Homo sapiens: one gene and its partner. The protein of the gene in region 2 interacts with the protein of the main gene of each other region in a pairwise test. Each region holds a gene or a part of one and is shown on either strand. Other genes may lie near its edges. The genes, in order: TMPRSS6 and HJV.

Region 1 (3,810 bases), on a different chromosome or scaffold from region 2:
GCATGGGCCACCATGACCAGCTAATTTTGTATTTTCAGTAGAGATGGGGTTTTGCCATGTTGGCCAGGCTGGCCTCGAACTCCTGACCTCAGGTGATCCGCTCAACTTGGCCTCCCAAAGTGCTGGGATTACAGGCTTGTGCCACCACGCCCGGCCCATGCCCAAATCTGATGCCCCCTCCATGAAGTCTTCCAGGATCCCCCAGTCAGGAGCAACCCCTCCCTCCTGTAGATCTGGGACTCTGTGTGAGGCTCTTGATTTGCCCCCTCTTCTGCTTTGGAACGAACAATTCCCTCTCTCCACTGCCTCTGGGGCCTCTATTCTCACACTGGCACCTGGTGTTATGAGAATCTGTTTATGTGTCTGTCTCCCTCATGGGGCTTAAAGCTCCTCCGAGGGCAGGGGTGAGGACACGGTCATCCTGGTGTCCTCAGCGCAGGAATGGGGCCTGGCATGAAGGAAGTGCTCATAAAGTCGACTTCAAGGATTTGAGTTGTTATCTCTGCCCCCTGAGACTCTGTGCTCTGGACATGCACTGAACCAGTCTCCTCATTCATGCTTTCATTCATTTGTTCAATCATTCATTCATGAAACGAACACCCACTGAGCACAGATAATTACAGAACAACTGCCAGGAACATGGGGACACAGAGGCACGAGGCAACATGAGGCTATTACATAGCACTTCTATTGCAGGAGAAAAAATAACTTTCCATAGGACCTTTTCCTTTCCTTTCTTTCTTTCTTTTTTTTTTTTTTTTTTTTTTTTTTTTGAGATGGAGTCTCACTCTGTCGCCCAGGCTGGAGTACAGTGGCACAACCTCACAATCTCAGCTCACTGCAAGCTCCATCTTCCGGGTTCAAGTGATTCTCCTGCCTCAGCCTCCTGACTGGTTAGGACTACAGGTGCGCACCACCATGCCCGGCTAATTTTTATATTTTTAGAAGAGACGGGGTTTCGCCTTCTTGGCCAGGCTGGTCTCAAACTCCTGACCTCAGGTGATCTGCCTGCCTCTGCCTCCCAAAGTGCTGGGTTACAGGCATGAGCCACCATGCCTGGCTGACTTTTATATTTTTTAATAATTGAAAAATGGCCTATGGAGCCAGGCGTGGTGGCTCACACCTGTAATCCCAGCACTTTGGGAGGTGGAGGCAGGTGGATCACCTGAGGTCAGGAGCTCGAGACCAGCCTGGCCAACACGGCAAAACCTCATCTCTTCTAAAAATATACAAATTAGCCAGGCATGGTGGCAGGCACCTGTAGTCCCAGCTACTCAGGAGGCTGAAGCAGGAGAATTGCTTGAACCTGGGAGGTGGAGGTTGCAATGAGCCAAGATCGCGGCACTGCACTCCAGCCTGGATGACAGAGTGAGACTCTGTTATATATATATATATGTCATTCTTGGCTCATGGGCTATACAAAATCAGGCAGCAATTGACCAGATTCGGTGTCCAGGCTGCAATGAGCCAGTCTCTGTCTCCAAGCATCATCTGATTAAGTCCCCCTGAGGCTCTCAGGAGTAATATCTCTGACTTACTATTGGTTGTAGATTATCAACCTCAGACTCTGTAGAGGTAGATGTTAACTTTCAGAAGACTGTAATAAGCTGTCAATGATTTTAATTCACTAGAAAAGACAACTCCAAAGGTTTGAGTTTTCTTGCCTGGTAGGACCTTAACCAGGTTTGTATCTAACTTGGTAATCTTATTCTAGCAATTCTCTTTTTCCATTAATGATTGATGATAGATAGATAGATAGATAGATAGATAGATAGATAGATAGATAGATATAAACAGACAGCTAGCTAGCTAGACAGACAGAGACAGAGAGACAGACAGATAGATAATAGACAGCTAGCTAGTTAGATAACTAGATAGACAAGCAGACAGATATCAACAGAGATGATAGATAGATAGATAGATAGATAGACAAATAGATCAGTTTCTTGCATTCTTTACCATTCTACTCGTTCCCCCATTAATCAGCCAAATAAATATTTGACACATGGTCACTCTATCTTTGTATGAGAATCATGATTTCACCTCTTTGAAAACTGTACTTTGACCTCATCACCTCCATCCAACAAAGAAGCAAGCATTTGACCAGCAGGATGGGAAGACGGGAAGGTAAGGAAAGGTATAACAAGGATTTAAACTCTGCCTCCCTCCCTGAGAAGGGGTTGAGACGCTCACCCCCACCTTGGCTCTGGGTGACAACACTAGATAGTGTGGGAGGAATCTGAGAATTTAGGGGCCATAGAGTCCAGCAGCCAGTTGGTGCACTGCACAACTCACACAAACTACAACTTGGACAGCACCTCCTGCCTTGTGCAGCGTGGTGACTGTGCTGGTCAGCTGAAAGATTGTGGGTCCGCTTGGAGAAATGCAAGGTGACTCTAGCAATACGGCACCAGGTAGGGAGGGAGGGCTGATGAGCCTGACTGGGAAGGAAAGGAAAAGAGGGAAGGAGCGTTCTTGAATGCAATGGCACCGCTACCTCCAAAAGACCAAGTTTTAAAACCAACGTGACTGACAAACCGTGAATTGGCAAGATGATTTTCTACCATCAGTGGAAACTAGCTTGTGGGCAGGTTGAAGTGAATGATAGAGGAGAGTCACGTTCGTGGACCACTAAACCTGACTCATCCTCACACCCACACAGGAACGCATGCACACCCGTCTACAAGACACACACAAATACACGCATGCACGTCGCCACCTCCTCTCCCCCTACAGGCTCCAAGACTTGCTTGGGACACATCGCTGAGTCCACCATGGCATCCCCTGGGTGACTCTTGGCCAGGGCTCCCTGCACACACAACAGAAGCCATGTGTCCCCCTGATACACAACAAAGTCAAGACAAATGCCAACTCAAAAGGAAAATGGGGAGGGGAAAAAAAAATAGCGTACCCAGCGTGGAATTCAATGCAGCTATGTCTTTCACACTGGCTTCTGATAAAAGGAAATGAACAAACAAATAAACAAGAACAAAAAAAAAAAAAAAGAAAAGAAAATACAATGAAAATAAAATTAGAGGAGACCCTTGGAGCCAGCCTTGTCTGAGATTTACCCTAAATGCCCCCATCCCACCCTTCTTTCCTGGCTCCTTGAATGCAATGGCACTGCTACCTCACCTGGGGGGCTCTCCTGGGGGGCCCACCCTGACAGCACCCCAGGCCTGGCAGGCAGCCTCCCCGGGCCACACCACAGCTTGTTTCCCCCAACCTCATGAGGCCAACCCCACGTTTCCACTCGCAGTACTGACCCAGGATCACTAGGCCCTCGGGGTCCACTTCGTACTCGGCCCTGTAGGGGACGGCAGCCGAGCTGTTGACTGTGGACAGCAGCTCCTCCACCAGCAGTGCCTGCACCACCTCGGGGCTCAGCATCAGCCGGCGGTGCTCGGGGATTTGGAGAATGAACCAGAAGAAGCAGGTGAGGGGTCCCTCCCTAAGGCAGGCAGAAGTGAGAGAGGCCAGGGAAGGATTCTGAGGTCTGGCCCCAGCTCCACCCCTGCTCATGCACATCGAGCACTTTCCGCACCTCAGCCATTGCTGTCCGTCTTCACGCAGAAGCCTCCTAGCGACCTCTGAAGGAGGCGCTCTCATAATCCTTATTTTACGAATGAGAAAACTGAGGCATGAGAGGTGAACTTGTGTCTCATAAACTATGCCGCAAGTAGCAGAACCAGATGTGGACGGGGCAGTCGGGCCCTGGAGCCAATGCTTTTAACCCCATGCCCCTCCAACATCGCCTCGCCTGATGGTGTCAGGCCCTTGATCAGCCATCACAGTCATTGTCTGGTGCAA
Region 2 (4,583 bases):
CCCCCCAATCAGACCTCATACATAGTTAGAGATCTGATCCAAGTAGAGATGCAGGACTACTATGGCCCTCAATCCTTGATCCCTTCTCCTATTTATGTTCCAGTATTACCTCATCCCTACTTAACCCCCTCTCTACTTAATCGTGGCAACTTCCTAGGAGAGGGAAAAGTTTCCCTTCTGAAACTCCTCAGGTCCGCCCTCTCCGACTGTCTCTTCAAGGTTTTCTGCATTTGAGTCAAATTCCCATCAAGGGGAAGTGATTTACAGCTCCAGGTGTTTGGTAGAAGGGAGTGATTCGAGATGGGGGAGAGGTTGAGGAAGAAAAGGGAATTAGGGAGCATTGCTGTTGAATAGTGGGGATGGGGAGGAATGGTGCCCGTGGAAGAATCTCATGAGGTGGATCGGAAGGAAGATTGAGTGCCTGACCTTCCGGGTGGCGGTAGCGTTGGCCCCCAACGCCATGGGGGAGCTGGTGGCTTGGACAAAGAGGAAGTCATTATCCAGTAGAGGCCAAGCTCCTTGGACACGGCATGTGTGAAAGTGATGGTGGAAGCTGCGCACATGGGGGTCCCCGAAGGAAGCGCAATGCAAGAACCCCGGGGGACGACCATGCAGCCGGGAAAACCGGCCTTCATAGTCACAAGGGTCCGGGGCAGGGAGGCCGGAGCCCGCGCCTGGAAGGGCGGGGCCCCGGGGCGGGGGAGGGGCTGTAGGGCCCTGGCGGGAGCAGTTGTGCTGGATCATCAGGTCTTCGATGCCATGTACCGCCGAATGGAAGGCGAGGTCCCCGCGGCAGGTGCGGGCGGTGCGCCGAGTGCAGAGCGCATAGGAGCGGAGGGCTCGACAGAGGCCGCCAGAGCCCACCCCTCCACCCCGGCCTCCTCCTCCTCCTCCTCGAAGTGCTCCTGATGAACCCCCACCTCTAAGGCTCAGAGTGGACGATACGTACTCAGCATTGCAGCGGAGGATCTTGCATTGAGAATGAGCTAAAGACAGAAGGGAGAGGATTGTGAGACGGTCCTCAGACCTCTGCTCTATCGGAGTGTAGTTTGCTCATAACTCTTCCAAATCTCATCAGGGGTTTCCAGCCTTCCTAAAACCTAACTAAGGGCCTTCCCCAGCCCCCAACCCCCTAGTCCCTAGTTCTCTCGGCTGTCTTACTAAAAGTGTGTAAGCCTGCCACATCTCTTCTGCCTGTCGACCAAGGGCTTCCCCAGTGGCCTTCCCCAGACTGAACGGGAAATAAAATATTAGTATTTGAGAGCAGGGCGAGTGATCGGGACTCTCAGCGCCTATCTCTCCTCACTCATTCAGGCTCACATGCCCACCCCTACATAGCAGCCTACCCTCTAGATTTCCCCAAACCCTTCCCTGGCCCTTCCTTACCATGTCCACAGAGGAGCAGCAGGAGAGTGAGAGTGCTTAGAGTTGGGGGACTGCCATGGGAGGACCTGGGACTAGGGGACTGGCCTGGCTCCCCCATACCTATCCAGCCAGGTTTCCCAGGCGCCGGTTCTTCCCAGCTGATGACCCTCCTACCTAGTGAATTTTGACCGGAAGCCCTGTAAGTGACTGAAAAAAGAAATTTGGCTGGACATGGAGAGAGAGAAGAATTGAAGATTGGTAAGGATAATGTGGAGTGAATCTGGGGAGATCAAGAAAAGGATGAACAGACTGGAATTTGGGGAGATTGGAGTTCCTCAAACTATAAGTGTGGCAGTTAAGCCTCTTTGCCCTGTTCCTGTGGCCACTTTTAGGGCCCTTGTGCAATACCCCTAGGTGGGGGTGGAGGGAAGGTTGAGTGAACTCAAGGGGGCAGAGTCCACTGTATTGCTCCATTCTGAGCTACCAAACAGCAGGTATGTCAAAGATGGAGGAATCATGGGGCTAGATCAGATACCAGTAATCCTAGTGGGTACCCTAGTAAAATTAGGACCTGAAAATATTTCAGAAACATACTTCTTATTTGTCCCTCTCCATTAGGAGGAGATGCCCTCTAGGAGTCATACATTTCTTTTCCTCCTTTGTGTCAGAACACAAGAAGGATTAAGGGTGGCATACCCATCCCGTCTAGAATATCAGTATTCAAATGAAAAGGAAACCAATCTCTTTTCATCAGCTCTAGAGAGCTGCAATTTTAATCTCCCTCTCTCATGGAATAATGGGATGCAAACCAAACATGCAAATCAATATTTGTTTTTTCTAAGTCAACAGTTCTTGTATTTTCCCAAATATCACTCCTTCCATTAATCTCTTCTTTTCAAATTCTGAAGTTCTCAGTCTTTTATGATGACAGGAGTTGGAGAGGGGCTAAATCCCTCCTGCCTAACTCCCCTATCTTATGGGTAAGGATATGATTGGGGGAAGAGTCCTGCAAGAGGGAGAATAGAATGGAGGGACTAGAGTTGTGGGGAGAAATCATTTACAGGGAGCAGCCCCCATGCTTGGAATCTCAATGTGAAGGGCATTGCTAAGTGGGGGCAGGATAGAAGGGTATCAGTGACTCATCATCTGAGGTCATATTTGGCCTTGGTAAGAAAACTACAGAATAGAGGACGTAGGGAACTCCTTCTAAAACTTCATCAGGAGTCTTGAGGTAATAAGGTAAAGAGAGGGCTAAGACTGCCAGAGGAGAGACAGAGAATTAAACTTCAAAAAGCTAGAGGCCAGAGGCCAGAAAGAAATAAGACAGAAAGAGAAATGGAGATTGGGGCACCTTGGTAGGGAGAGATCCCAGCATTTGGACGAGAGACATCCAAGTAGGTGTTTGTAATTTTATAAAAGTCTAACTTCAATATAAAAGCTTATTAAAGGAATTGCAATTTCATTTTGACTTACTGTTTCCAGAGGTCAAACATTACTCTGCTATCCAATTCTCCAGCCATGATTCCCTACTCTGTGGGTCAGCTCCAGCCAGGGGGTCCTCCGTGTCTCCCCCAGGTCCCCAGGCCGGCTGCTGTCTCACTGAGGTCAGGGAACCAGAGAAGGTTTGGTATGGGGGGAAGGGGGAGTATATGGCTGGCCAGAGTACTGGACAGCTGAGCAGGGAGGGAGGTGGCTACTGAGTTGACGGTTTTAAAAATAGCTAAGTCCAAAATTCCAGGAACGTTGGTGGGGGTAGGGTGTGGGAGTTGGGGGAGTGGGGAGGGTTAGAGGATTAGAAAGAATATGGAGTATTGAGTGCCAAGTCAGGGAGGGAGGAGAGAAATATGACAGACAAGTTGGATATCCAATTCCAGCTTGTGTGACTCTGTGGTCACTGCCTACTCCAGGCAGCCCTCCAGCATTTTCAATAATGTTGAGCTCCTGGCCTTTAAAAATTACAGTGGGCAATTGGATACCTTTCATTTACCATGTTCATCCCTGCTATGCTGAATATTACATTTAGGTTCTACAGATAGTATCTAGGAGGTAGCTGACTTTGAATAAGATCCATAGCAGAGGTAGTTCATAGCCCCTCTCCTATCTTTGCAGAGTATTTCAGAAGGACGAAAAAAGCCAGCTGTCCAGAGAAGAAATCTGAGCTGTGAGTTGCTTAGGATGAGGGTTTGTTCAGTCTATCCAGCTCAGATCCTTGCAGCTGTCTATCCTCCTACCTACTCCATTTTCATTACTTTAGTTTGTACAGCAATTCATCTTCCTCTCCCTCATGAATACACAAAAAATAAAGGCTCCCGATTTGCTTGGAGAGAAGGCTAACAAAGGCAAAGAGGTGAAGAAAGAATGGAAATAGAATTCTTCTAAAGAAAGAGTTGGAGAAATAGAAAAAGATTCAAAAATATACTTTTCCTTCCTTCCTTCCTTCCTTCCTTCCTTCCTTCCTTCCTTCCTTCACTCCCTCCCTCCCTCCCTCCCTCCTTCCTTCCTTCCTTCCGAGATGAGGTCTCACTATGTTGACCAGGCTGGTCTTGAACTCCTTGCCTCAATGAATCCTTCCATCTCAGCCTCTCAGAGTGCTGGGATTACAAGTGTGAACCAACATGCCTAGCCTCAGAAAGATACTTTTATGGAATAACATAATCTTGTGACCATAAATATTGCAAAATCTCAGCACTTTGGGAGCTGAGGCAGGAGGGTCACTTGAGCGCAGGAGTTTGAGGCTGCAGTGAGCTATGATAACGCCATTGCACTCCAGCCTGGGCAACAGTGAGACCCGCCCCCCCACCCCCCTTAAAAAAGAAAAGAGATACTGCAACCAAGGGATTTAGCCATGTCATGTTTTTGCAGCCATAGGTATATCTGAGATCATCATCTTTTAGTACTTGCCAAGTGAAATTAACAGAAGGACCGATTCCAAATACGGTCACTGTATTAGGGTTCTCTAGAGGAACAGAACTAATAGGGCATATATCTATATCTGTATCTACCTCTATCTATATAGAGATCTATATCTATATCCATGTCTATCTATCTAGCCATCTAGACTGGCCATCACCAGTCTGCTTTCTGTCTCTCTAGATTTATTAATATCTATATAGATATGGATATCTATATAGGTAGATATATAAATAAAGGGGAATTTATTAAGTATTAACTTACACAATCACAGGGTCCCACAGTAGGCTGTCTGCAAGCTTGAGGGG

What was found.
Region 1: the proteins of HJV (region 2) and TMPRSS6 interact in binary tests that used the Homo sapiens proteins (3 or more experiments, as listed by UniProt).

Annotation. Positions count from the first base shown.
Region 1 is NC_000022.11:37,092,640-37,096,449, forward strand, and holds part of TMPRSS6 (transmembrane protease serine 6), read right to left. Parts: intron 3,452-3,810; coding exon 3,267-3,451; intron 2,954-3,266; coding exon 2,912-2,953; intron 1-2,911. UniProt on the Homo sapiens protein: Membrane-bound serine protease. Through the cleavage of cell surface hemojuvelin (HJV), a regulator of the expression of the iron absorption-regulating hormone hepicidin/HAMP, plays a role in iron homeostasis.
Region 2 is NC_000001.11:146,018,749-146,023,331, forward strand, and holds the start of HJV (hemojuvelin isoform a precursor), read right to left. Parts: upstream 2,988-4,583; 5' UTR 2,839-2,987; intron 1,591-2,838; exon of another isoform or gene 1,573-1,590; 5' UTR 1,484-1,572; coding exon 1,387-1,483; intron 987-1,386; coding exon 427-986; intron 1-426. UniProt on the Homo sapiens protein: Acts as a bone morphogenetic protein (BMP) coreceptor. Through enhancement of BMP signaling regulates hepcidin (HAMP) expression and regulates iron homeostasis.